Linked DNA regions of Homo sapiens: region 2 is linked to region 1. The links come from fine-mapping of genetic effects on gene expression. A gene starts in region 1. The other region holds a variant in brackets. All regions are shown on one strand. Distances are between the middles of the regions. Region 1 holds the start of SPMAP2L (sperm microtubule associated protein 2 like). Region 2 overlaps SPMAP2L (sperm microtubule associated protein 2 like).

Evidence for each region. PIP is the estimated chance that this variant, and not a neighbour inherited with it, causes the effect.
Region 2: its variant is the best candidate, but not a certain one, in a credible set for the expression of SPMAP2L in testis (GTEx, PIP 0.52).

The regions. Positions count from the first base shown.
Region 1 is chr4:56,523,990-56,536,816 of GRCh38, reverse strand. SPMAP2L (sperm microtubule associated protein 2 like) reads right to left here and starts at 6,211. Exons shown (of 9, transcript NM_001256475.2): 1 at 5,648-6,211. The coding sequence starts at 6,140. It overlaps LOC105377665 (a long non-coding RNA gene), which reads left to right and starts at 6,331. Exons shown (of 4, transcript XR_941077.1): 1 at 6,331-6,467; 2 at 8,400-8,441; 3 at 10,883-10,975. It overlaps ARL9 (ARF like GTPase 9), which reads right to left. Exons shown (of 4, transcript NM_001363794.2): 4 at 12,364-12,827. RefSeq lists an enhancer at 5,204-5,737.
Region 2 is chr4:56,597,319-56,610,145 of GRCh38, reverse strand. It overlaps SPMAP2L (sperm microtubule associated protein 2 like), which reads right to left. Exons shown (of 9, transcript NM_001256475.2): 8 at 9,037-9,212; 9 at 6,639-6,937. The coding sequence ends at 6,823. Among named protein-coding and RNA genes, the nearest start is that of SPMAP2L, 73 kb to the right of the region's middle. RefSeq lists an enhancer at 3,425-3,926. The variant A/G (reference allele first, on the strand shown) is at 6,852.

The sequences.
Region 1 (12,827 bases):
ACTCCAGCCTGGGAAACACAGCAAGCCTCCATCTCAAAATAGTAATAATAATAATAACACTACAACACTACTACTACTACTAGCTAACATCTACTGAGCACTTACAATGTACCACATCTGTTCTAAGACCTTTATGGGTATTAACTCTTTGAATCTTTTTGACAATGCTAACGATAGAGAAGAAACCATTGGATTTGGTAACACAGCGGTCAAATGAAGAGATCTTTCATTCAACAACAATTAATTCCTGACTTGTTCCAGGCAAGCTTGAGGCACTAAGGATGAAAGACAAAGGTCCTGCCTCCATAAGAGCTTAACGTAAAAGAGTAAACAAATAGATATATCATGCAGCCCCATAAGTGTCTCAAAGAAAATGAGCAGGCCAATAATGCTGTTTTTGGTACCCCATGAAAAGGAGATGACAAGTTATTTGAAACAAGAGTGCCCTGGCAGAGGAGAAAGCAAGTGAAATGATCCTGAGCTCAGAGCAAGGATGCCCATGTGCCTGCAGAGCAAAAACCGACAGGGGAGTAGTAGGACATGATGTCATGGACATATCAGGTCAAGTTCAAGGTGAGGTTAGTGACAGGCTCAGATCAAGTGGGGCCTTGTAGGCCTGCTAAGGACTTTAGAGCAGGGGTTCCCAACCCCCGGGCTGTGGACTGGTTTTGTCTGTGGCCTGTTAGGAGCCAGGCTACACAGCAGGAGGTGAGTGGCAGGGGAGCAGGCATTACAGCCTCAACTCCGCCTCCTGTCAGATCAGTGGTGGCATTACATTCTCACAGAAACAAACCCTATCGTGAACTGCGCGTGCGCATGTGAGGGATCTAGCTTGCTGGGTCCTTATGAGAATCTAACTAATGATTGATAGATTGATCTGAAGTGGAACAGTTCCCCCCACCCCTTGAAAAAACTGTCTTCCACGAAACCCGTCCCTGGTGCCAAAAAGGTTGGGGATCCCTGCCTTAGAGGTGAGAACCCTGCCTGAGGTGAGAACCCATTCTGGAGGGTTGAGAGCAAGAGAACTGCATATAATTTATGTTCTAAGGGACTTCTGTGACCAGTGTAGGTATAATGAACCGGGGATGGTGCAAGACAAGAACCCAGCTGGAGGCTACTGCAGTGGACCTGTAGCAGGACGAGGCACAGACAAAACCCCTCAGACACCGAGTTAAAGAAGGAAGGGCTTTATTCGGCTGGGAGCATCAGCAAGACTCATGTCTCAAAAACTGAGCTCCCCGAGTGAGCAATTCCTGTCCCTCTTAAGGGCTTACAACTCTAAGGGGGTCTGCATGAGAGGGTCATGATCGATTGAGCAAGCAGGGGGTACGTCACTGGGGGCTGCATGCACCAGTAATTAGAACAGAACAGAACAGGACAGGGATTTTCACAGTGCTTTTCCATACAATGTATGTAATCTATAGATAACATAACCAATTAGGTCAGGGGTCGATCTTTAACGACCAGGCCCAGGGTGTGGCGCTGGGCTGTCTGCCTGTGGATTTCATTTCTGCCTTTTAGTTTTTACTTCTTTCTTTGGAGGCAGAAATTGGGCATAAGACAATATGCGTGGTGGTCTCCTCCCTTAGACCAGGCAAGAGATGATAGTGGCTTACAAAGATGATGACATTTTAAATGTTAAGAAATGGCCATAGTCAGGATATAGCTCAAAGTTACAATTTGCTAATGGCTTAAAGTCTGAGTGTAAGAGAAAAACAGGCGTCAAGAATGATGCTAAGGTTTTTAGGCACCTGGATAAATAAATGGTGGTGCCATTTGCTGAAATGGGAAACAATGAGGGAAGAGCACATATGGGTGCTGCAGGAAGACTTCATTGGTGGGCACATTATGGTTTTTTTGTTGTTGTTGTTGTTTGTTGTTGTTGTTGAGATGGAGTTTCACTCTTGTTGTGCAGGCTGGATTGCAATGGTGCAATCTTGGCTCACTGCAACTTCCACCTCCCAGGTTCAAGCGATTCTCCTGCCTTAGCCTCCCGAGTAGCTGGGATTACAGGCATGCGCCACCACGCCTAGCTATTTTTTTTGTATTTTTAGCAGAGACGGGGTTTCACCATGTTGGCGAGGCTGGTCTCGAACCCCTGACCTCAGGTAATTCACCCACCTGAGCCTCCCAAAGTGCTGGGATTACAGGCGTAAGCCACTGCACCCAGCCCACCTTATGTTTTACATGCCAAATTGATATTCAAGCGGGGACGATAAATCAATGACTGGTTATAAAACTTGAGTTTAGGGGAAAAACTGAGGCTAGAGATAATTTGGGAAGTTACCAGAATATAGTTAAGGCCATGGAACTGATGACCTCACCCAGGGAATAAGGAAAGTTCTAGAAGAATGAATCTGAGAGGACTAAGCCATTGGTCACTTCAACCTAAAGGCTGGGAAGAGGAGGATTCAGCAAAGGAAACTGACTAAAGAACAATCAGTGAGGTAGGACAACAGAGGTAGAGGCATCCCAGAAGTCAAGTAAAGAAGACTTCTAAGAAAATAAGAGGTTAATGTGTCAAATGAGTAAGATGAAGATGAAGAATTAGCCATTGAATTTCACAAGGCAGCGATCATTGTGACCTCAACAAAAGCCACTGCAGCTAAGTGGAGGGGATGAAAATGTAAGTGGTTCTCTAGAGAAGGGGGAAAAAGGGGGAAAGAGGACATGGATATGATGACTTGCAGGCAATTCAATTGAGAAATTTTTCCTCTAAAGCAGAGCAAAGAAATCATGGTACCTGGACGGGCACATGGGGTTCAAGGAAGGTTTGGGGTTTCTTAAAGATAAGAGTTATTGTGCATTTTGCTGTTGTCGTTGTTGTTGTTTGGTTAGTTGGTTTTAGTTTTTGTTTTTGTTCTTGAGACAGAGTCTTGTTCTGCTGCCCAGGCTGGAGTACAGTGGCATGATCATACCTCACTGTTGCCTCAAACTGCTGAGTCTGAGGTGATGCTCCTGCCTCAGTCTACCAGTAACTGGGGCTACAGGTATGTGCCACCATGCGTGGTTAATAATTTTTTTTTTTTTTTTGTAGAAAGGAGGTCTCACTATGTTGCTCAGGCTGATTTTGAATTCCAGCCTCAAGTGATCCTTCCACCTCGGCCTCTCAAAGTGCTGGGATTACAGATTTGAGGCACCGCATCCGGTCCATTGCACATGTTTGTATGCTGATGGGAATGATCCAGCAGAGGAGGAATACAATGATGCAGGAGAGAGAGGCTAATTTTAGGAGCAAAGAGCTTAAAGAAGTTAGATGGGATTGAAATCCAACATATAGATTGAGGGAAAGGCCTTTAATAAGAGCAAGGACATTTCATCCATTATTAACAGGAAAAAATGTAGAGTACATATGTATAGATGCTGGTATTTTGGTAGATTTCATGGTGGAAAGATATGTAGATCTTTCAGAATTTCTTCTATTCTCAGTGAAGAAAAAAGTGAAATCATCAGCTAAGAGCGAGGAGGAAAGGATGCATAAGGTTGAGGAATGAGAGCACTCACCATAATTTCTGGGACAGCTGGAAAATAAATTGACTGTGGAAATACAGTATGACTGGCAAGCAGCACTGAGAGCCCACTTGAAGTTCAGGGGCATGGATTTAAAGGTCAGTTATCATAGTTGGCATAGTTGTTTGCCTTTCTCTTGCCATTATCTGTTATTCCAAGTGCAGGCAAGGGTTCGATTTAACAAGGCAAGAATGACAGAGGGAGAGAGAATCAAGGGAGTAATTCCATTGTTGGTCCATGGAATATAAGGTGAGGAGAGACAGCAGGACATAAGATAGTGATATATAATGAAAAGTTCATAGGATCAATGGATTTGAAGTCCCTTAAGCTGAAAATTTGATAGGGGGGTTCATGGAGGAGTGAGCTGGAAAGCTAAGACATGGTTAGAGATTAGAGTGCTTGAAATAGTCTGGAAATGGTAGAGCAGTTAACAATGGCTTTGATAGTGGGTGCCTACGATGGGGTGAAGGACAAGATCTTTCCAAGTGAGGAGATCAGAGAACTGAGAAGCCAAATGGATCATCCAAGTGGATATGAAATCTCCATGCATGATGATAGGAGTGGCGGCAGAGAGAAAAGCAGTAAACTAGAGCAGTTTTGGGAGAGTAGAGGAAAGAAGCCTAACCAAATGTGTTGAGAATGAGAGGTGAAGAAATTGAGTCAGTGAGTATAGACAACTCTTTTGACAAGTTCTGCAATGAAGAACAACAGAGAAATGGGGGTGATGCTGGTGGAAGGGGAGAGTCTGAAAATGACATGGGGTCAAGAGTTATTTCAAGATGGAAGATTCTAGAATATGTGTATGATGGTACTGATTAATTAGGGAGAAATTGATGCTGTAGAAGAGAGAGGATAACTGCAGGAAGAAAGTTCTTCAGGAAATGAGAGTGGTATCTAAAGCATAAGTGAAGGATTTTGCTTTTCATTAAAAAAAAAGGCACAATTCTTCCCTGAAATATGAGAAAAGGCAGAATTCATGGGTACAGATGCGGGTAAAGCAATAGATCCATTGTAAGAAAATAAGGGATTTCATGATTGATCACTTCTATTTTCTCGATAAAGAATGGGGCAAAGTCTTCAGCTGGGTGGGGGGGTCAAAGGTGTGAAGTTTAGAGGAGAGTAAGGCAGTTAGTCATCTTCAGAGACTGGGAAAACCAACTTACTAAGGGAATAAAGTGAGCTTGCCAGGCAGTGCCAAGTGACCAGTTGAAATGAAATTGAAATAAACCAGACAGTATGACTGTGCAATTTTGCACAGCAAGAGTCAACTGCTGAGGTGTAGGAAGCGAGTAGATGGACGGCTGGGTTTAATCAGGGTTGAGGTTTTGTCAGAAGTATGATGGATAACCAGAGAGCCAATGGAATGGTGGAAGACATAAGGGAGCAACTGCAATGGCAGACCATGGAATCGAGGCTGGATAAGGAGCAGTCAGTGAGAACATAAGATAAAAATTGGTTTCCCAAAAGATTGGCGGTCCAATGAGGACAAATAATTGCTTTGGGTTGGGTCATTAGTGAGGGGTCATAAATGAGCGAGTGGGGTCAGAGCAAGGATGTTTATAACCAAGTCCCATCTGCTCTGTTACCTTGTGAAGGTGGTGAGGACTGAGCATATCGTGAGCACTTTGTAGATGCATACTCTTTGAATACTTGCTCAATGAATGCTTTGTTTCCACATGTGACCATATGCCAAACACTGACGAAAATATCCTCCCTTCAAGGATCACTCTCTTTAGTTAAAGAGAAAGATGAATGGTGAAATACAAGATCTTAAGTGCTCTAATAAGGGTAACATTCAAAGTGCAACCCAGAGGGATGCAATGACTAACTGTAGAGGCGAATGAAGAAGGGCTTCAAAAGGAGGTAACAATAGCTCATTAGATAGCAGTGGAAGACAAGAGATTCAGCTTCTCTCATTATCAGGGTGTCAGTTTCCCATCTGAGTCCCTTGAAACGCAAGGGCTGATGACTGCGAAGCAACAGGTAAATGACACGAGTTCTTTTCAATATGGCAAGCTCTTGCATGCAAACCTCCACCTTAGGACCCCCGGTTCTAGATGGGGCGTGGGTGCTCAGCGCGTGGGGAATGAGGGGAAGGGAGAAGCAGGAGAGGGGACGAGGGAAGGGGAACACCTACCACCCAGGAAAGACAGCTGAGGCCGTGGCGGGGCTCTGGTGATCAGAGAGGGGGAGATCATTACTGCGGCGCTGGGAAGCAACTCGGTTTCCTTGGCCTCGCGGGACTTGCGGGGCTCACGGGTGTGGCGGAGCTGGCGGGGTTCACGGGCCTTGAGGAGTTTGGGGGCTGCATGGGGCCCATGGAGTTCGTAAGGTGCATAGGAGTCCCGGGGCTTGTGGGGCGCATAGGGAGCGTGGGGCTCATAGGACTCATGAGGCTCATCACATTCCTCGGACTCGTCTCTCTGGTCTTGCTCCCTGACCTCCTCGGGTTCCTCGGGATTCTCGTGTTTCTCGGGATCCTCGGACTCCTCAAGCTCTCTGTGAGTGTCGAGAATCCTGAGCACAATGGGCTTCTGGAAGACTTCGGAGCAAGTGGATATTTCTGTTGAGACCTGCCCATCGGTCACCTCGGACGGCGCAGATGAACTTAGAAACTCTTGGTTCTCCATTCGCGCCAGAAGCTTCTGTCGCGCGCGGGACTCACCCTCCCGACTGGTTGCCCAGGCGCAGTTTGCTCTCTGCGCGATACGATAAGGGCTGCCGGGGCCCCCCGCGCCCAGCCCCGCCCCGAGCCCCGCCCCGAGCCCCGCCCCAGCCCTACACAGCCCCGCCCCGGTCTAGCCCCCGAGCCCCGCCCTAGTCCCACACAGCCCCGCCCCGGCCGGACTCAGCCTCATCTCACTCCGCCTTCCTGCGCGTTGTACGGTTGCCAAGGGGACGCACCACTCTCCAGGACCTTCTGGGCGCATCTGGGGACTAAGAAAAGCCAGAGACAGGTCGGTGGAGATAGGAGACGAGATGCTGACCCTGTTCCCCGTGTCCAGAGCAAGGATTCTCGCCTGCTGTCGTTCGCGGAGGCCCTGGGGTAGAACATGTCAGTTTCTAATCTAGTTAGGGCGCCCCTCAGACCCCAGAGGCAATCTGTAAAGAGCTTGTGCCCAGAGGTTCCTGGACACAATCTCTATACGGGCTTTTGTCCCCTAATCATGCTGGGAGAGGATGCCGAGACTGATAATATTCTAAGGCCCTCAGTTACTAACACTGATTTCCATCAATTTCTAGTTAAATGCACGACCATCAGAATGGAGCGGGGGCGGGGGGCGGGGGGTGTGGGGGAGGTGGATCCACCAGTGCGACATTTGACATAAGCTTACATTCAAGAAGAGTCTCAAACTTGAATGTTTTACTTTATCTCCACATGAAGTTCTATACACAGTCACAAAGAAACACTGACTGGATTAAAAGAAAAATATATTCATCTACAACTTGTGTCTCATTACAGGGCTCACTATCTACTGAAGCATGCTATCAGCTACTTTTTATAAAGGGCTGTAATTATCTTGTGAACAGTACAACTGTGTGCTGTGTTCTGTGGGTGCGTCCATTAATTTGTTAACTGTGGTATCTTTTAAATATACCACACTTCTTGTAACCCTGTTTTTGGCATCCTCTCTTTTTTATCACTTATTATACCAAGAGACTTTAAAAACATAGGTGGCCTGGCCGTCTCTCAATCCTTGAGGAGTGCTTTCAGCTAATTTTCATGGTGGTGACAGTGTGATAGAGGGGAATAGAAGTGGTGGAGTTTTACTGATGTGTTTATTTTCAAGGGAAGGGACTAGAGGTGTTGAGGAATAAGTTGTCTGTTAAAATATTTAGTAAACCCAAGTACCCCTTTTGCTCGTTACTGGGTATTCCTTGTATGTACTTAGTCTCATAGATGCTAAGAAAAGTTAGAAGAGAAATATTTTGGATTGTGAATGTTATCTGGAATGGAACTAGAAGATTCATTCTAGCATGTGCGTATATGAATCGGAATCTCCTTCAACCTTACTTTGATAGAGATGTGTGTAATATTGTATGGAAGTTCAGGAAATATCCCCCAAAACTTGGAAGGAGAAATAAAGCTACTCTCAGAGAGTTTTAACTCAACCTTTAAACCAATCAGGGAGGAGTTATGTAAATCCACCTTAAAGAGGCAGGATGGCCCTTAAATCAGTAAAAGTAGTCCCTGGTTACATGAAATGTCTTCGAAAGTCCAAAGAACATGTCAATTGAAAGAGGGGGATTCAGGCCACTGTGAATGTACAGAATGAGCATCATAGAGGCTGTGCCTTCTCAAAAACTGCAGAAAGGAGGGGATCTAAGCCAATAGACTGCAATTGTTACAGCCTATCTTTTAGGCCCACTTGCTATGAATGTGGTGCCACTGTATATCAAAATATTCATGTTTAGCTTTCTTTCCTTCTTTTTTATTTGGGACAGGGTCTGGCTCTGTCGTCCAGGCTGGAGTGCAGTGGAGCAATCTTGACTCACTGCAACTTCTGCCTCTTGAACTCACACCATTCTCCCACCTCAGCCTCTTGAGTGGCTGGGACTACAGGCGCATGCCACCACGCCTGGCTAATTTTTGGTATTTTTTTGTAGAGACAGGGTTTTGCCATGTTGCCCAGGATGGTCTCAAACTCCTGAGCTCAAGCGATCCACCCACTTTGGCCTCCCAAAGTGCTGGGGTTACAGGCATGAGCCACTGCACTGGGCACAGGCAGCTTTCTGACATGACTTGCTTCTCAAGGAGTCTGCTTATTGGGAAAGATTATAATGATCACATAGAATGAATTCTTTTCCAAGTCTGTCTTAGTTCATTTTATGTTGCTATAATAGAATACCTGAGACTGGGTAATTTATAAAGAATTTATTTCTCATAGCTCTGGAGGCTGGGGCATCCAAGTGCATGGCTGTGGCATCTGGTGAGTCTTTCTTGATGCAGCATAGCATAACATGGTGGGAGGGCTGAACATGAAAGAGAGGCACCAGGGCTGGACTCATTTTATAACAACCCACTCCCACCATAATGACATCATGATAAGGTCATGGCAGGCCACCCAGGCCCATCATCATCTCTCTGGATTCTACAGTGGCCTCCGAACTGGTGGAACTTCTGACTTTTACCTTTGATCACCTCCAATCATAACACTCCAAACCATTTTTTTAAATCCTCAAGCTTTGCATTATAAGGTGTTCCATACTCTGGTTATTTTTTCCCTCTCTAGTCTACTTTGAGCCACTCCACCCTTGCTGTCTACATTCTGGCCTCCCTACTCTTCTCTAAAGTGTCAAGCTCTTTCCCATTTCAGTCTCTTCTCACACCTGTTCCCACTGCGTGGAGCCCATTTCTTCCCACTGTTTACATACTGGCTCTTTTCTAGCCTCTGGGGCTCAGCTTAAATATTACCCACTCAAAGAGGTCTTTCCAGCCCATATTAATTTTAAAAATGTTCCCACCATTATTTTCTATTTCATTTCCTTGCTTCAACATAATTTGTAATTATTTCATCTGCTTGTTTATTTTTGTGTATTTCCCCAGCTAGAATGTAAGCTCCTTAAAGACAGTGAAATTCTCTGTCCTGGTTACTGGTATATTCCCTGTGCCAAGCACAGTGAATGACTGTGAATAGCTGTCATTATTTCGTTTTCCTGCCTAGAATCCCTTCCCTCTTCTTCTGAAGGCAGAACCCCTCCTTTCTGCAGGGAACTCATTCAGTATAGTTTAAGGGGCTGATCCTTCCTTCTAACCCAGGTCTGACCAATCCAGCCACAGTAATTGGTTCAAGGATGAATATGCAACCCCAGAAGAGCCAATTGGTATCCCTCCGTGAGATTTAATGGATGTCTGCTCAGAAAAGGAAGGTCCATCTTACTCTGAGATCATGAGCTATAAGAATGGCTTGTGTTGACAGCAGTCATCTTGCTGCTCTGAGGAGGGAATCTGAGAATCAAACCAAGCAGAGGTTGGCAGGGCCAGGACATGGAGAGACAGTCTTATCTTTGAACTTCTGAACTCCTGAATCCACCCATGCCCAGATTTTCCAGGATGATGAAGAAAAAAAAATTCTTTTTTTGTGGGGGTACACACAAATTTGAGTTGAATTTCCGTTAAAAAAATTTTTGTAGAGACAGGGTCTTTCTATGTTGCCTAGGTTGCTCTCTAACTCCTGGCCTCCAGCAGTCCTCCTGCTTCTGCCTCCCAAAGTGCTGGGATTACAGGCCTGAGCCACTGTGCCCAGCCTTTTTGAACAAGGTCTCATTCCATTGCCCAAGCTGAAGTGCAGTGGTGCAATCACTGCTCACTGCAGCCTTGACTTCCCCAGGCACAAGTGATCCTCCCATCTTAGCCTCCCAAGTAGCTGGGACTACAGGTATGCACTATCACATCTGGCTAGTTTGTTGTTTGTTTGTTTCTGGTGTGTATTTTTTGAAGAGATGGGGTATCACCAAGTTGCCCAGGCTGGTCTCAAACTCCTTGGCTCAAGTGATCCACCTACCTTGGTCTCCCAAAGTGCTGGGATTACAGGCGTGATCCACTGCATCCAGCCTGAATTTCCTTTTAACTGAATTTATTTTTAGCTGAAAGAGTTCTGGCACATTTTCTGGCACATGGTGCTCCCAAAATGTTTACTGAATGAAAAGGCAGATCCACTCTTGGTGTGCTAACTAAACCTACTTTCTAACATGACTCAGCTTCTCAAACCTGGAATGCTTGTAAGCCCGGAAGGCTGGCAACAGACACGAGATTGTGGTAAAGTCTCCAAGGTCGTATGCCACCCCATTAGGCCCATTGGGCAGGCTACCAGCCAGGCAGCCTCTCTGACAATACGCCAATCTGTCTTGTTGTCTAGTGCCATTTCTGTTAGAAACCCCCATGACACAAACCCTCATCGTTAGCCTGAGAGCATCTCAAGTACAGAATCCCTGCTTTGTTCACCCTGGTGTCAAGCAATGACTGCCATGTTGGCACTCCATAACTGTCCACTGAAGGAAAAACTCCAGCCACAACACTTGTTGCCAAAATGCAGAATCTAAAATCAGAATCTGAGATTAAAAAGACCAAACAGGGAAGAACAGAGATATTGTTCCCCATCCTGAAAGCTTTTGGCCTTATCTTTGAAATAAGCATCCAGAAACTTCTCTATGTCCCTGATCACCTTAGAAAACCTAGGGAAGGGACAAGCACATAGAATCAGAGTTTAGGGCTGGAAGTGGTCTGCATCTCACTTGATCTTTTTACAAGGACAAGACCAAGACAGTCAAGGAATTCATCCAGGGGTCCATTCGCGGTAATCCTTGGGGCAGAGGTTAAAATCCAACATTTCTGACAATTCCGAATCATTGTGTGATCCACCCTCCATAGGCCAGACAAGAAGAAGGTTTAACATTAGACACCTGAGTGGCTGCTGTGATAAGATACCATTAAACATGATGGCGTGGTGCTGATATGAGAAAGGTAATGATTTTAAAGGCTCACTCTCCAATGTCTCATCTCGCAGAGGGCAATCATCATTTTGCACATGCATGCATAAATTCAATTGTGTTCTATTTTAACCTAAAACTAGAGACAGTTATGTGCTAATATTGAGAGGGGTTATCTTCACCAAATTTGGATTTTTTTTTTTTTTTTTGAGACAGGGTCTCACTATGTTTCCCAGGCTGGTCTCAAACTCATAGGTTCAAATGATCCTCCTGCCTCAGACTCCCAAAGTGTTGGAATTACAGGTGTGAGCCACCACGTCTGACCCCATATTTGTATTATTTCACCACAGATTCCAAATTTTATTTTATTTTATTTTGTTTATTTTTCTTGAGATGGAGTCTTGCTCTGTTGCCCAGGCTGGAGTACAGTGGTGCGGTCTTGGCTCACTGCAACCTCTGCCTCCTGGGTTCAAGCGATTCTCCTGCCTCAGCCTCCCGAGTAGCTGGGATTACAGGTGCCTACCACCACCCCTGGCTAATTTTTTGTATTTTTAGTAGAGACAGGTTTTCACCATGTTGGCCAGGCTGCTTTTGAACTCCTGACCTCATGATCCGCCCGCCTCGGCCTCCCAAAGTTCTGGGATTACAGGTGTGAGCCACCACGCCTGACCCCATATTTGTATTATTTCACCACAGATTCCAAATTTTAAAAGGAAGGATTTATAGAGCAAACTCTCTTTACAATTTTTCTTAAAACCAAAGCAAGGCACTATAGTTACAAGTTGGATTTACAGAGTGTCTGCAAATAAATATAGTTATCACTCTTTCTAGTGAAGAAAGTTTATCTATATAAAAGCAAAATGTTAAGAATTTTAAAAACAAATCCCCACAATGTTCCTCATCTCGTCTAACAAGCTCCTGGAAAAGAAGCCCTTCCTAACTCTTTCTGAATACTGTTAATGTTTATTTCTCTGGGGGTTTGACAAAGTTCACTGTCCTCATTGTCCTACCCTGATATTTCTTATAGTGTTAAACAGATCCACTTAATGGAAAGACACCCAGTTTTTTACTTGAAAAGAGAAAACATACTAAAATATATTCAAGGCCAGGTGCAGTGGCTCATTCCTGTAATCCCAGGACTTTATGAGACCGAGGTGGGCAGATCGCTTGAGCTCAGGAATTCGAGACCAGCCTGAGCCACATGGCAAAACCCCATCTCTGCTAAAAATAGAAAAATTAGCCGGGCATGGTGGCGTGCACCTCTGGTCCCAGCTACTTGGGAGACTGAGGAGGGAGGATCACCTGAGCTGAGATCATGCCACTGCACTCCAGCCTGGGCAACAGAGTGAGACCCTATCCACCCCCACAAAAAAATTTCATATAAATTTCATGCCATTGCAAAACAATAAATGGGACAAATGCTTGCTAATGTTCATTTTACCTTTGTTGATTAAAAATCCCAATACCCCCAATACACTGTTTTACAAATATTTTTAACATTCAAAATCCAAATAGAGATGCTGTTATTATGTTAGCATTATCTTTGTACAGTTGTCCGTTGGTATTCTCAGGGAGACTGATTCCAAGATCCTCACAGGCAAATGTGGATGCTCAAGCTCCTGATGGAAAATGGCATATTTACATATAACCTACACACTTCTACTCGTGTATTTTAAATCATCTTTAGATTACTTATAATACCTAATACAATGAAAATGCTATGTAAATAGTTGTTATATTGTATTTTAAAATGTGTATTATTTTTATTGTTGTGTTATTATTCTTCAGTGGGTTTACTTTTTGAATGTTTTGGATCCACAGTTCTTGAATCCCCAGATGTGGAACCCATGGATATGGAGGGCTAACTATATACATCCCATGCACTG
Region 2 (12,827 bases), 73 kb before region 1:
GCTTTGGGTATGCAGGCTCTTTTTTGGTTCCATATGAGCTTTAGGATTGTTTTTCTAATTCTGTGAAGAATGATGGTGGTATTTTAATGGGAATTGCATTAAATCTGTAGATTTCTTTTGGCAGTATGGTCATTTTCACAATATTCACTCTACCCATCCATAAGCATGGGATGTGTTTCCATTTGTTTGACTCTCACTATCTCTCTCAGCCTATTCAGGTTGCTCTAACAAAATACAATGAACTGAATAATTCACAAATGATAGAAATTCATTTCTCACAGTTCTACAGCCTGGGAAGTTCAAAATCAAGACACTGGAAGATTCAATGTCAATTGATGGCTGCTTGCTCCTTCCAAGATGGCACCTTCTTGCTGCATCTTCACATGGCTAAAAACGGAAAAAGGGATGAACTCTCTCAAGCTCTTTATTAAGGACACTAATCCCGCTGATGAGAGCATAGCCCTTATGACCTAATCATCTCCTAATGGCCCCACCTCTTAATACTGTTGCACTGGAAATTAAGTTTCAACACGAATTTTGGAAGGATGCAAACATTCAAATTACAGCATTTTGCCTCCGGTTCCCCCAAATTCATGTTTTTCTCACTTACAAAATACATTCTTTTCATTCCAATAGCCCCAAAAGTCTTAACTGAATCCAGCATCAACTTTAAAGTTTAAGTCCAAAGTCTCACGTAAATATCATCTAAATCAGATATAAATGAATGATTAGTTTGAAGCAAACTCCCCCTCCAGCTGTGAACCTGTGAAATCGAACAAGTTATGTGCTTTCAAATTACAATAGTGGCTGGGCACGGTGACTCATGCCTGTAATCCCAGCACTTTGGGAGGCCAAGGCAGGTGGATCACAAGGTCAGGAGTTCGAGACCAGTCTGGCCAACATGGTGAAACCCTGCCTCTACTAAAAATACAAAAATTAGTCTGGCGTGATGGTGGGTACCTGTAATCCCAGCTACTCGGGGGGCAGAGAAACACTTGAACCCGGGAGGCAGAGGTTGCAGTGAGCCAAGATCACGCCACTGCACTCCAGTCCGGGTGACAGAGCAAGACTCTGTCTCAAAAAAAAAAAAAAAAAGAAAGAAAGAAAGAAAAAAAGACAATAGTGATATCAGCATAGGATATACATTCTCATTCCAAAAGGGAGAGGTAGGAAAGAAAAGAGTAACAGGTCTCAAGTAAGTCCAAAACCCAACAAGGCAAACATTAAATATTAAGGCTTGAGAATGATCTTCTTTGACTCCATGTCCCATCTTCTGAACACACTAAGGTTCACCCAGGTGGGCTCACCCCCTTGGCTTTGCTGGGCACAACCCATGGTCAGCAGGGTTTGGAGTCATGTGACTGTGGCTCTCCCAGGTTGATGTTGCATGTTGGTGGCTCTACCAACCTGGGGTCACAAGGGTGGCCCTATTCTCATGGCTCCATTAGACACTGTCTTAGTGGGGACTCTCTGCCAACTATATTGTACCTGGGCCCACTGAAGCCATACCTGGGGTGGCTGAGGGGCACTGCACCAGAATTTGTGGAGCAGAAATGTGAGGCAATACTAGGAAGTGGGCCCCAAGGTCCCACAGATGCCCTGTGCTCCTGCTTTGAAATCATTCTGTCCTCAAGGGCCTGGCACTCTGGGCTTGTGATGGGAGTGGCAGCCTTGAAGATCTCCAAAATACCTTAGGGGTCATTCTTCCATTGTCTTGATTAATAGCATCTGACTTCCTTCTAGCCATACTAATCGCCTTACCAAACATTCTCTTGGTCACACTCTTGGTGTTCTCTCTCAACCATGCTTCTTATCCTTTACAACTTGACAAGGCTGAGACTTTTCCAAATCTTTAAGTTCTGCCTCTCTTTTAATTATAAATTCCATCTTTAATTCAATTCTCACTTCTCACATTTTATTACAAGCAGTCAAGGGAAGCCAAGCAGCTCCTTCAACACTTTGCTTAGAGACTTCTCCTGCAAATATCATATGAATACAATGTAACCAAGGTTCTTTTTTTTCTTTTTGTCACTTATTAACTTACTTCTGTAGTTTCCACTATCTTGTTCCTCATTTCCATCTGACACTTCACTAAAATGGCCTTTACTGTCCATATTTCTTTTCTTTCTTTCTTTTTTTTTTTTTTTTTTCTTGAGACAGGGTCTCACTCTGTTGCTTAGGTTAGAATGCAGTGGCACAATCATGGCTCACTGCAACCTCAACTTCCCAGGCTCAAGTAATTCTACCTTAGCCTCTGAGTAGCTTGGACTACAGGCAAGCACCACCATGCTTGGCTAGTTTTTTAAAAAACATTTTTTTAAATAAAAATGGGGTGTCCCTATGTTGCCCAGGCTGGTCTTGGACTCCTGGGCTCAAGCTATCCTCCCACCTCAGTCCCTCAAAGTGCTGGGATTACAGCCGGGAGCCACCATGCCCAGGTTACTGTCCATATTTCTGCCAACTGTCTGGTTCATGACCACTTAAGTAATCTCTAAGAAGATTGAAGGTTTCTCTACAACTCTTCTGAGTTCTCACCAGAAATCGCCCTTAATGCTCCATTCATGGCAACACAGGCTTTTTCTAGCCTGCTCCTCTGAACTGTTCCAGTCTCTGTCCATTACCAGTTCCAAAGCTGTTTTTACATTTTTAGGTATTTGTTACACAGTACTCCACTCCTGGTACTAATTTTCTGCCTCAATTTTTTGGGCTACTATAACAAAACACCAAACACTGGCTAATTTATAAAGAACAGAAATTTATTTCTCACAGCTGAGGCTGGGAAGTCTAAGATCAAGGTGCCAATAGATTCGGTATCTGGTAAGGGCTTGTTCTTTGCTTCCAAGACGGCACCTTCTTACTGCATCCTTACATGGCAAAAAGAGAAAAGGGATGAACTCACTCCCTCAAGCCCTTTTACAAGGGCACTAATCCAATTTATTAGAGCAGAGTCCTTCAGACCCAATCACCTCCTGAAAGCCCCACCTCTGAATACTATTGCATTGAGGATTCAGTTTCAACATGAATTTTGGAAGGACACAAACATTCAAACCAGAGCACTCTCTATCCTGTTTCATAACCTAGAAATCCAGAAGTTATCTTGAATTCTTTCCTCTCCCACTCCCCATATATAACCCATCATCAAATCCCATAAATCCACCTTCTCAAATCGCTCTTGAGCCTGTCACTTCTTACTGTCTCCACCATGGTACCAACAAACTATTTTCACCTTTAAAATGACGTACTAAATAACCTCCTAACTTGGCCTACCCACCTCCACTGCCCCCTTCCCAATTTATTTGTCAGAACTATTACTTCAAAAGCCAACTCTGATCACATCACCCCATGCTTAAATTACTTCAATAGCTTCCCTTTGGTTTTAGGATGAAGACTAAAATCCTTAACCTGTCCTCCAGTGCCCTACGTGGTCTGGTCTGGCTCCCATCCTTCAGCCTCCTCTTGCTTCACACAACCTCCTATTTCTTTCTGTTTGAGCCACACTGGCAATCTTTCAGTCCCTGATGCATCCTTCCATCTGCCTCAGGGGATTTACTGGAAGGCAGTTCCGGCATCAGAGGAATAGCCGGAGCACCAGGGTAGGAGTCAGAACAGCTCCAGGGACACAGGTAGTAGGAGAAAAATGAAGTCTCATCAGGGCACCTATATGGGAAATATCAGCTCCATCACCCTTGCTTCACTATGCTTAAGATCCACAGTCCCAGAAGACAGTTCAATGGGTGTGGCTGACTTGGGTTACATATCCATACCTCGGCTAGGAAACCTTGAATAAAAATCCCCATAAAGCTTTAAACAATGAGGAGAAAGTAATTCTCCAAGAGCAAATGCGCAGTTCTTATCAGAAGGAGGAAGAATGAATTCAGAGTGATCCAAAAATCAACAACTGTCCACTTAACATATGTTCCCACTACTTGGAATGTCTTCCTGTATCCTCTTTGGTTAGTTAGTCCTACTCAGTTTTCAGTGTTGTACCCAGGTGAGTTAAGAAAACGTCACACTTTGAGACGAATTAAGAGTCCTTTATTAAGCCGGCGGCCAAAGAGACGGCTAATGCTCAAAATTCTCTCGGCCCCGAGGAAAGGGCTTGATTAACTTTTATACCTAGGTTTAGGAAGGGGAGGGGGACTCAAATGTAATAATTCTACAGAAGTAAAAACATGCAAGAATCAAAAGAATCAAAATGGTTACAGAGTGATAAACAACTTAAAAGACAAATGGTTACAAGAAGAGCAACGGTACCAGGTGCAAGGTTCTAAATCTTTTATTATAATTAGATATAGGGTTTATGCCGGACACGAACTCAAGGTTTTATGTTGTTATCTCTTGGAGAAAATTCCTGGGAACTTCATACGTTGTTGGTGTTGGTACCTTATCAGTTAATTGGGCTCCTTTGAAATGCTGAGGATCTGTTTACCCAGGCCAACTCCTCACGAAAGGGGGTTGGGTGAGGAGCCCTAGTGTCTTGTAAATTAAGGGGCCAATTGGAGTTTGCCCAGCTTTCCTAGCTAGAGAGTCTTATTTACATGAAAAGCAAGGCTAGGTGATTTAAAGAGACAAGCAGGACAAAATTCAAAGTAATGAGTTGAAGTAAAAACAAGGTTAGGCATTTCATCAGCATCCAACCCAGTTGTTCCTTCATTAGAGAAGCCTTCTCTCACTTTCCCATGGGATCAAAGTTCTCTATTCTGTTATTTCATAACACTATTTCATAGTACTTGCTAGTGTTGTAATTTTACATTTATTGGTGAATATTCTAATGAAATCATCTCTCCCAATAAGCTAAAGAGTCCGTGAGAGCAGAACCCATATCTGTTTGGTTCACTGTGTTATCTCCAGTGCCAAGCACAGGGCCTGGCAAAGCAAAGACACTCAACAGACATTCATTTAATGTAAGAATCAAGGCATATTTTCCCCACTGATATGAATTATGCCACTGTACCCTTAGAAAGCTAGCACAGGTAAATTTCTTATTTTTAATTTCAATAGCTTTGGGGGTACAGGTAGTTTTTGGTTACATAGATAAGTTATTTAGTGGTGATTTCTGAGATTTTGGTGCACTCATCACCCAAGCAGTGTACACTGTACCCATTATGTAATCTTTTATTCCTCACCCCCCTACCAGCCTTCCCTCTGAGTCCCCAAAGTCCATTGTATCATTCTTACGCCTTTGCATCCTCACAGCTTAGCTCCCACTTATAAGTGAGAATATACAATGTTTGGTTTTTCCATTCCTGAGTTACTTCACTTAGAATAATGGCCTCCAACTCCATCCAAGTTGCTGCAAATGCCATTATTTTGTTTTGTTTTACGACTGAGTAGTATTCCATGGTGTACATATACCACACTCTCTTTATCCACTTGTTGGTTGATGGGCATTTAGGTTGGTTCCATATTTTTGCAATTGTGAATTGTGCTGCTTTAAACATGTGAAACACAGCTAAATTTCTTTTCTTTTCTTTTCTTTTTTTTTTTGAGATGGAGTCTTGCTGTATCACCCCAGGCTGGAGTGCAGTGGTGCAATCTCGGCTCATGGCAACCTCTGCCTCCTGGGTTCATGTGATTCTCCTGCCTCAGCCTCCTGAGTAGCTGGGATTACAGGTGTGTACCACCACACCAGGCTAATTTTTGTATTTTTAGTAGAGACGGGGTTTCACCATGTTGGTCAGGCTGGTCTTGAACCCCTGACCTCGTGATCCATCTGCCTCGGCCTCCCAAAGTGCTAGGATTACAGGCATGAGCCACTGTGCCTAGCCACAGCTAAATTTCTAAATAAAAATTTTTGTTTCAAATATATACTTTATTATATACATTTTATCATCTAATCTTTACAAGAATGCTGCAGGAACCCATTTTCTACATAAAGAAACTGCAGCACAGGGAGTTAGGAAATTTGTTTAAGATCACATACCTGGTAAATAATCCATGACAGAGACAACTTCAGGTTCTATCTGATTCCAAAACTCAAGTTCAAAACTGCTATGTGGTATTACCCCTCTGTAACACAAAGACGTTAAAGGTAGAACTCATTCATCTGTAAAATTGGCTTTCAAGTAAGTTCATTTTCATGCAAATCTAGATATGCCCCATAAAAGTTAGTTTAATTTGTAAAATACTGATCTATAGAGAGAATAAAATTCTGGGCAGATGCAATTTTACAGAGAATTTTAATGCTTACCAAACAGCTTTTTCTCTCATTCATGGTAAGTGACTCTGGCATGAGTAAAGGAACAGAGATTGGTGACATCATCATTAAGGTAACCTGTTCCCTAAATTTCAATTATAAATTGTATTTATAGACTATAAAAAGTATTTCAATTTTTCCAAAAGAGCTTCACTTTTTCAGTGTTTTTTCTAAGTAATAAGGGGATGCTGAAATAACACAAAGAATGATTTCATTTCCCAGGACTTACTGGAGAAGGGACTGAGGTAGGATCAGTTACTGGGGAACATGGAACTCACTGGGAAAGGAAAAGCAAAACCCACAAATATAAGGAAGAGTGTTTCTTCAGGTCAGCTACAGCAATGAGGCAGCCAAGATGCTTGTGAGGAAACAGTAAGGATAATGAGGCAGTCTCTCATTTTCTCATTTATTGCATGCTGGAGTCCTCAAATCTGCTAAAGATTCAGCGACAGGTTAACAGCAACAACTGCTATTTAATGATCATGGTGGTTTTCCCTAAAGGTCTCATTTTGTGGGAGGGGAAGCAAGGGGTGAATGTAAACTGACAGTACCGCAACAGGGAACTAAGTCATCTAATATGTGTTCTAGATACATAACCAGGGTCTGACTGTTGTGGCTTTCTGTATTTAACGTGTAAGAGGTTGTGACAACTCCC[A/G]GATCCTTTGAGAACACTGTGCTTTCAAAGCAGCTGGCTTGGTTTTAAAGACATCTGGATCATAATACACAATACGCACAGGAGCCCTGAAATAGGGGAAAAAGAAATCAACCTGAAATAAGATGAACAGAGAAGGTAGCTAATGTTTCTCAAGCATCCACTGTATGTTATGTACTATGATATTATCCCATTTTATTTTCATGACCTCCACTATACAGATAAGGAAATCAAGACTCAGTTAAATGAAGTTAAATGAATGAATTTACAGACAAATCCAGATTTATATGTCTCTCAGATTCCAAAACCTTTTCTCTTTCCCCAGAAAGTAAATTCAGGAAGTTGCTTAGTCTTGAACTTGAGTTTTGGAATCAGACAGACCTGAGTTTGTATCCCCTATGTATCATTTACCATAACATAATTTGTCAATGTTAAAACAAGCCAGAGTATTCTCTGGTAGACTTAAGAAAATAAAATTTTTGAAGTTGGCCACTCTCAGCACCTTACCACCAAATAATAATTTTGTCACCAGGATAAAAACCTTGATAATGCACTTGATCATATTCTTCTCTTTTACTTTTTATTTTATTGTTTTATTTTTTTGAGACAGGGTTTCACTCTGTCACCCAGGCTGGAGTGCAGTGGTGCGATCTCTGCTCACTGCAACCTCCTCCTCCCAGGCTCAAGTGATTCTCCTACCTCGGCCTCTCAAATAGCTGGGACTACAGACGTGCACCACTATGCCCAGCAAACTTTTTTGTATTTTTAGTACAGACGGGGTTTCACCATGTTGCCCAGTCTGGTCTCAAACTCCTGGGCTCAAGTGATCTGTCTGCTTTGGCCTCCCAAACTGCTGGGATTACAGGTGTGAGCCAACGCATCCAGCCTCTTCTCTTTAATGAACAGAGAATGAGCTTCATTTCATCTGATGGCAAATTTATTTTTTTTAAAGGATAAACACATTACAGCATTTTAAACATGTCATTATATAAGACTAGCATATTTCCTTTTCCCTGAGCTCAAGACTTCCACAACTTTTTCTGCCTCTCCTAGGTTTTGCTATTGATGCTTTAAAAGAGGGATCAGATGTTATCCGTCAAGGTAACAAAATTAATTGAGGCTCGGGCAAGTTAAGAGGCCTCCAAAAAATAAACAGAAATGAGAGGCAATGTTTTTCTTTGTTAATTATATATTCTTATCTATTTGAATTAGGCCATACACGTACATGATGCAAAACATTGGAAAAATACAAAAGCCTATTTATTGAAAAATAAGTCTTCCTCCTATCCCAATTCCCTAGGCCCCCAAAGGCAACCATTGTTACTAGCTTCTTGTATACCCTTCTGAGATACTACAGGCATATGCAAACAAATATATGGCCCATGTCTTTTTTTCTTACACAAATTGCAACATATTACATGCTGTGTTCTAGAATCTGTTTCACTTAATAATATATGTTAGATAAATAATTCCATACACATACTTATCAGACTGTCTCCTAGATCTTAAGTTTCTTTTTCCTTTTTCCTTTCTCTTTCTTAGAGCCAAGGTCTTACTCTGCTGCCTGGGCTGGAGTGCAGATCATAGCTCACTGTAACTTCAAACTCCTGGGCTCAAGCAATGACTTCCTGCCTCAGCCTCCCAAGTTGCTAGAACTACAGGCACATGCCACCACACCTGGCTAATTTTTGGTATTTTTTTGAAGAGATGGGGGTCTCACTTTGTTGCCTAGGCTGATGTCAAACTCCTGGGCTCAAGCGATCTTCCCACCTCTGCCTCCCAAAGTGTTGGGATTACTAGTATGAGCCACCGTGCCTGGCCAATATTTTTAAAGAATTTTTTGTAGAGACAGGGTCTCACTATGTTCCCCAGGGTGGTCTCCAACTCCTAGCCTCAAGCTATCCTCCCACCTTGGTCTCCCAAAGCACTAGGATTACAGGTGTGATCCACCTGCCCCATCCTAGATCTAAGTTGCAATACCTAGTCCACTAACCTTTTAACAGTAGCCTTATATTTAGGGTAAGAAGACCATAGATGTATCACAATAAATGTAATTCGTTAAGTAAGATGTTTTGGAAGTTCTTTTCATATTTCTACAACTCTTTTCATTTGCCTTATTAGGTCAACTTTCTCCCTCTCCCCAGAACCCCAGCCTTTCCTGTCCCACTTTAGCCTGAAATTGACATACCTCTTATTTGGATTAGCTAGTTCCTGAATCCTAGGTGATGCTTTGGAATGAGTAGTAGCATAAGATACTGGCCAATGGGCATCACGGTCAGGTAGATAATCTTGATGAACAGACTTGGACTTCGCTAGAGCTATTGTTCGGGGGCTAGGTTTAGCTATCATGGCAGCAGGAGGTACCTATAGTGGAAACAAAGAGACACAAAAATATATCCCAAATTTTACATTTCTCTATGTCTATAGCTATATCCCTACTTAAGTCACAATCATTTCTTTTCTGGATTACTGCAACAGACTCGTAACTGGTCTCTCTGCTTCCATCCTTGCTCCTGTACAATGCAGCCTTCCATGACAGTTACTGAGGGAGAGAATGAACATATAATGAGTGTGTTCTGTGAGCCAGACAGTGTTCTAAGCTTTACCTAAATCATTCCCACTTAATCATCACAACAGCTTCATGAGCTAAGTACTTTCTAAAGCCCAAATCAGATCATATCGCTACCAGGCTTTAAACCCATGCTGGGCTGGATGCGTTGGTTGCTACCTGTAATCCTATCACTTTGGGAGGCCAAGGCGGGTGGATCATGAAGTCAGGAGTCTGAGACCAGCCTGACTAACACGGTGAAACCCCGTCTGTACTAAAAATACAAAAATTAGCTGGGCTTGGTGGCCCGTGCCTGTAATCCCAGCTACTCAGGAGGCTGAGGCAGAAGAATCGCCTGAACCAGGGAGTCGGAGGTTGCAGTGAGCCAAGATCACACTACAGCACTCCAGCCTGGCAACAGAGTGAGACTCTGTCTCAAATAAATAAATAAATAAACCCATCCTATTGTTTCCCATTTTGCTAAAAATAATACTTAGGCTCAGCCAAGCACAATGGCTTGTGCCTGTAATCAGTCCCAGCACTTTGGGAGGCTGAGGTGAGCAGATCATTTGAGCCCAGGAGTTCAAGACTAGCCTGGACAAAATGGCAAAACCTCATCTCTACAAAAAAAAAAAAAAAAAAAAAAAAAAAAGAAAGCAAAGAAAAACAAAAATTAGCTGGTTTACATTCCCACCAACAGTGTAAAAGCATTCCTATTTCTCCACAGCCTTGCCAGCATCTGTTGTTTCCTGACTTTTTAATAATCACCTTTCTGAATGGTGTGAGATGGTATCTCATTGTGGTTTTGATTTGCATCTCTCTAATGATCAGTGATGTTGAGTTTTATTTTCATATGTTTGTTGGCCACATAAATGTCTTCTTTTGAGAAGTGTCTGCAGCACTATTCACAATAGCAAATACCTGGAACCAATCCAAATGCTCATCAATGATAGACTGGATAAAGAAAATGTGGTACATACACACCATGGAATACTATGCAGCCATAAAAAAGAATGAGATCATATCTTTTGCAAGGATATGGATGGAGCTGGAAGCCATCATCCTCAGCAAACTAACACAGGAACAGAAAACCAAACACTTCATGTTCTCACTCATAAGAAGGAGTTGAACAATGAGAATGCATGGACACAGAGAGGGGAACAACACACACCAGGGCCTGTCAGCGGCAGGGGGTGTGTAAGGGGAGGGAGAGCATTAGGACAAATAGCTAATGCATGTGGGGTTTAAAACCTAGGTGACAGGTTGATAGGTGCAGCAAACCACCATGGCACATGTATACCTATGTAACAAATCTGCACATTCCGCACATGTATCCTGGAACTTAAAGTGAAAAAAATTAAAAAATAAAGTAAAAAATAATAATTTTGAGCAAAAAAAATTAGCTGGGCATGGTGGTGCATGTCTGTGGTCACAGCTGCTCAGGAGGCTGAAGTGGGAGGATCACTTGAGCCCAGGGAGGTTGAGGCTACAATAAGCTGTGATAGCACCACTGCTCTCCAGCCTGGGTGAGAGAGTGAGATCCTGTTTCAAAATAATAATAATTATTACATATTATTGTGTATATATACATATATACACACACTTAGTGTATTCTGTTTTCACACTGCTATGAAGAAATATCTGAGATGGGGTAATTTATTAAGAAAAAGAGGTTTAATGGAATCACAGTTCCATTGGGGAGTGGCTGGGGAGGCCTCACCATCATGGCGGAAGGCAAAGGAGGAGCAAAGGCACATCTTACATGGTCGGGGGCAAGAGACCGTAAGAGCCCAGCGAAGGGGGAAGCCCCTTATAAAACCATCAGATCTCATGAGAACTCACTAACTATCAGGAGAACAGCATGGGGGAAACCACCCCCATGAGTCAATTATTTCCACCTGGTCCTTCCCTTGACATGTGGGATTATTACAATTCAAGGTGAGATTTGAGTGGGGACACAGAGCCAAACCCTATCACTTAGGCTCCTTCTGTGGCCTACAAGGCCCTACATGATCTGCCTTCTGCCCCACCCCTCTGACCTCATCTTCCTCCCCTCCTCTCCTTGATCCCTGTGATTCCAGCCACACAGACTCCCTGGACCAGGTCCTTCCCTCTCAGGACCTTTGCACTTGCTAGTTCTCCTTGAAAAAAAAACTTCCCTTAGCCTTGGCTTGGCTGCCTCTCCCTCACTCAAGTCTCTAGACTCATACATCACATTCTTCAAGGAGATCTTCCCTGGCCAGGCAAGACAAGTCAGCCTAATTACCCTCTTCTGCAGGACTTACTTAATCTTCTTCATAGCACATGTCAACACCCACATTAGCTCATTTATCACTTTGTTTATTGACTGTATTTCTCCCCATTAGAATATAAGCTGCTCAAGGGGAATTACTTGTTTGCTAAAAGCTAAAATTGGCTCTGGCACATAGTTGGTGCTGAATAAACATATACTGACTGACTCCTTTTGGTCTTACTTTAAAAACCACATCTACCAGATTGCCTTTCTGTTATGTTGCTTTATTGGTAAAATACCTAGGATGACATCTACTACTCTCTTTTAAATGCTCACTCAAAAGAATTAGAGTGGGGCTAGCCATGATGGCTCACACCTATAATCCTAGCTCTTTGGGAGGTTGAGGCACAAGGATCACTTGAGCTCAGGGGTTCCAGACCAGCCTGGGCAATATAGTGAGACCCCTGTCTCTACAAAAAAATTTTTAAAACTTGGGGGTGGTGGCACATGCCTGTAGTCCCAGCTGCTCAGGTGGCTGAGGTGGGAGGATCACTTAAGCCCAGAAGGTTGAGGCTGCAGTGAGCCATGATCGTGCTGCTGCACTCCAGCCTGGGTGACAGAGCAAGACACTGTCTAAAAAAAAAACACCACCATCACAAAAAAAACAAACAAAAGAATTAGGGAGGACAGCTAACACCACTCTCAGTAGTCTTGAAAGTGTTCTGCATTGCACTGGTGCAGATTTGTTTCGGGTTCTAAGACTATGATTTTCTGCAGTGGTATTCCTTTTTTCTAAAGACCTTAAAAAATAAAATAAACCCAAACAATCCTAGCAATTAAGGAAAGATCTCCATTACTTCCATTTTTACATACCAAAAAACTGAGAATAAAGTCATTTGCCTGACAGTCACAAGTCACTTTAGTAAACTTAAGACACTCGTCCAAGAGTTTCTGATTCCCAGAATGGTTTTCTTTCCTAATAGAATTCCATATTAAATCCTCAGTTTCCTTGAAACAGGGTGAAACTGGCCCCACCTCTTTTGGCAACATGATCATTAGATATTTTTTGAAAACCCAATTGGAATAGGGCACCAAGTTGGCACTGCAATTGATGGTGGGGAATGTCAAGGATGAAGAGGGAGGGAAGCCATCAAAGGTTCCAGGCTCTGTGCTGAGTGCCATGACTTACCTGTTATTG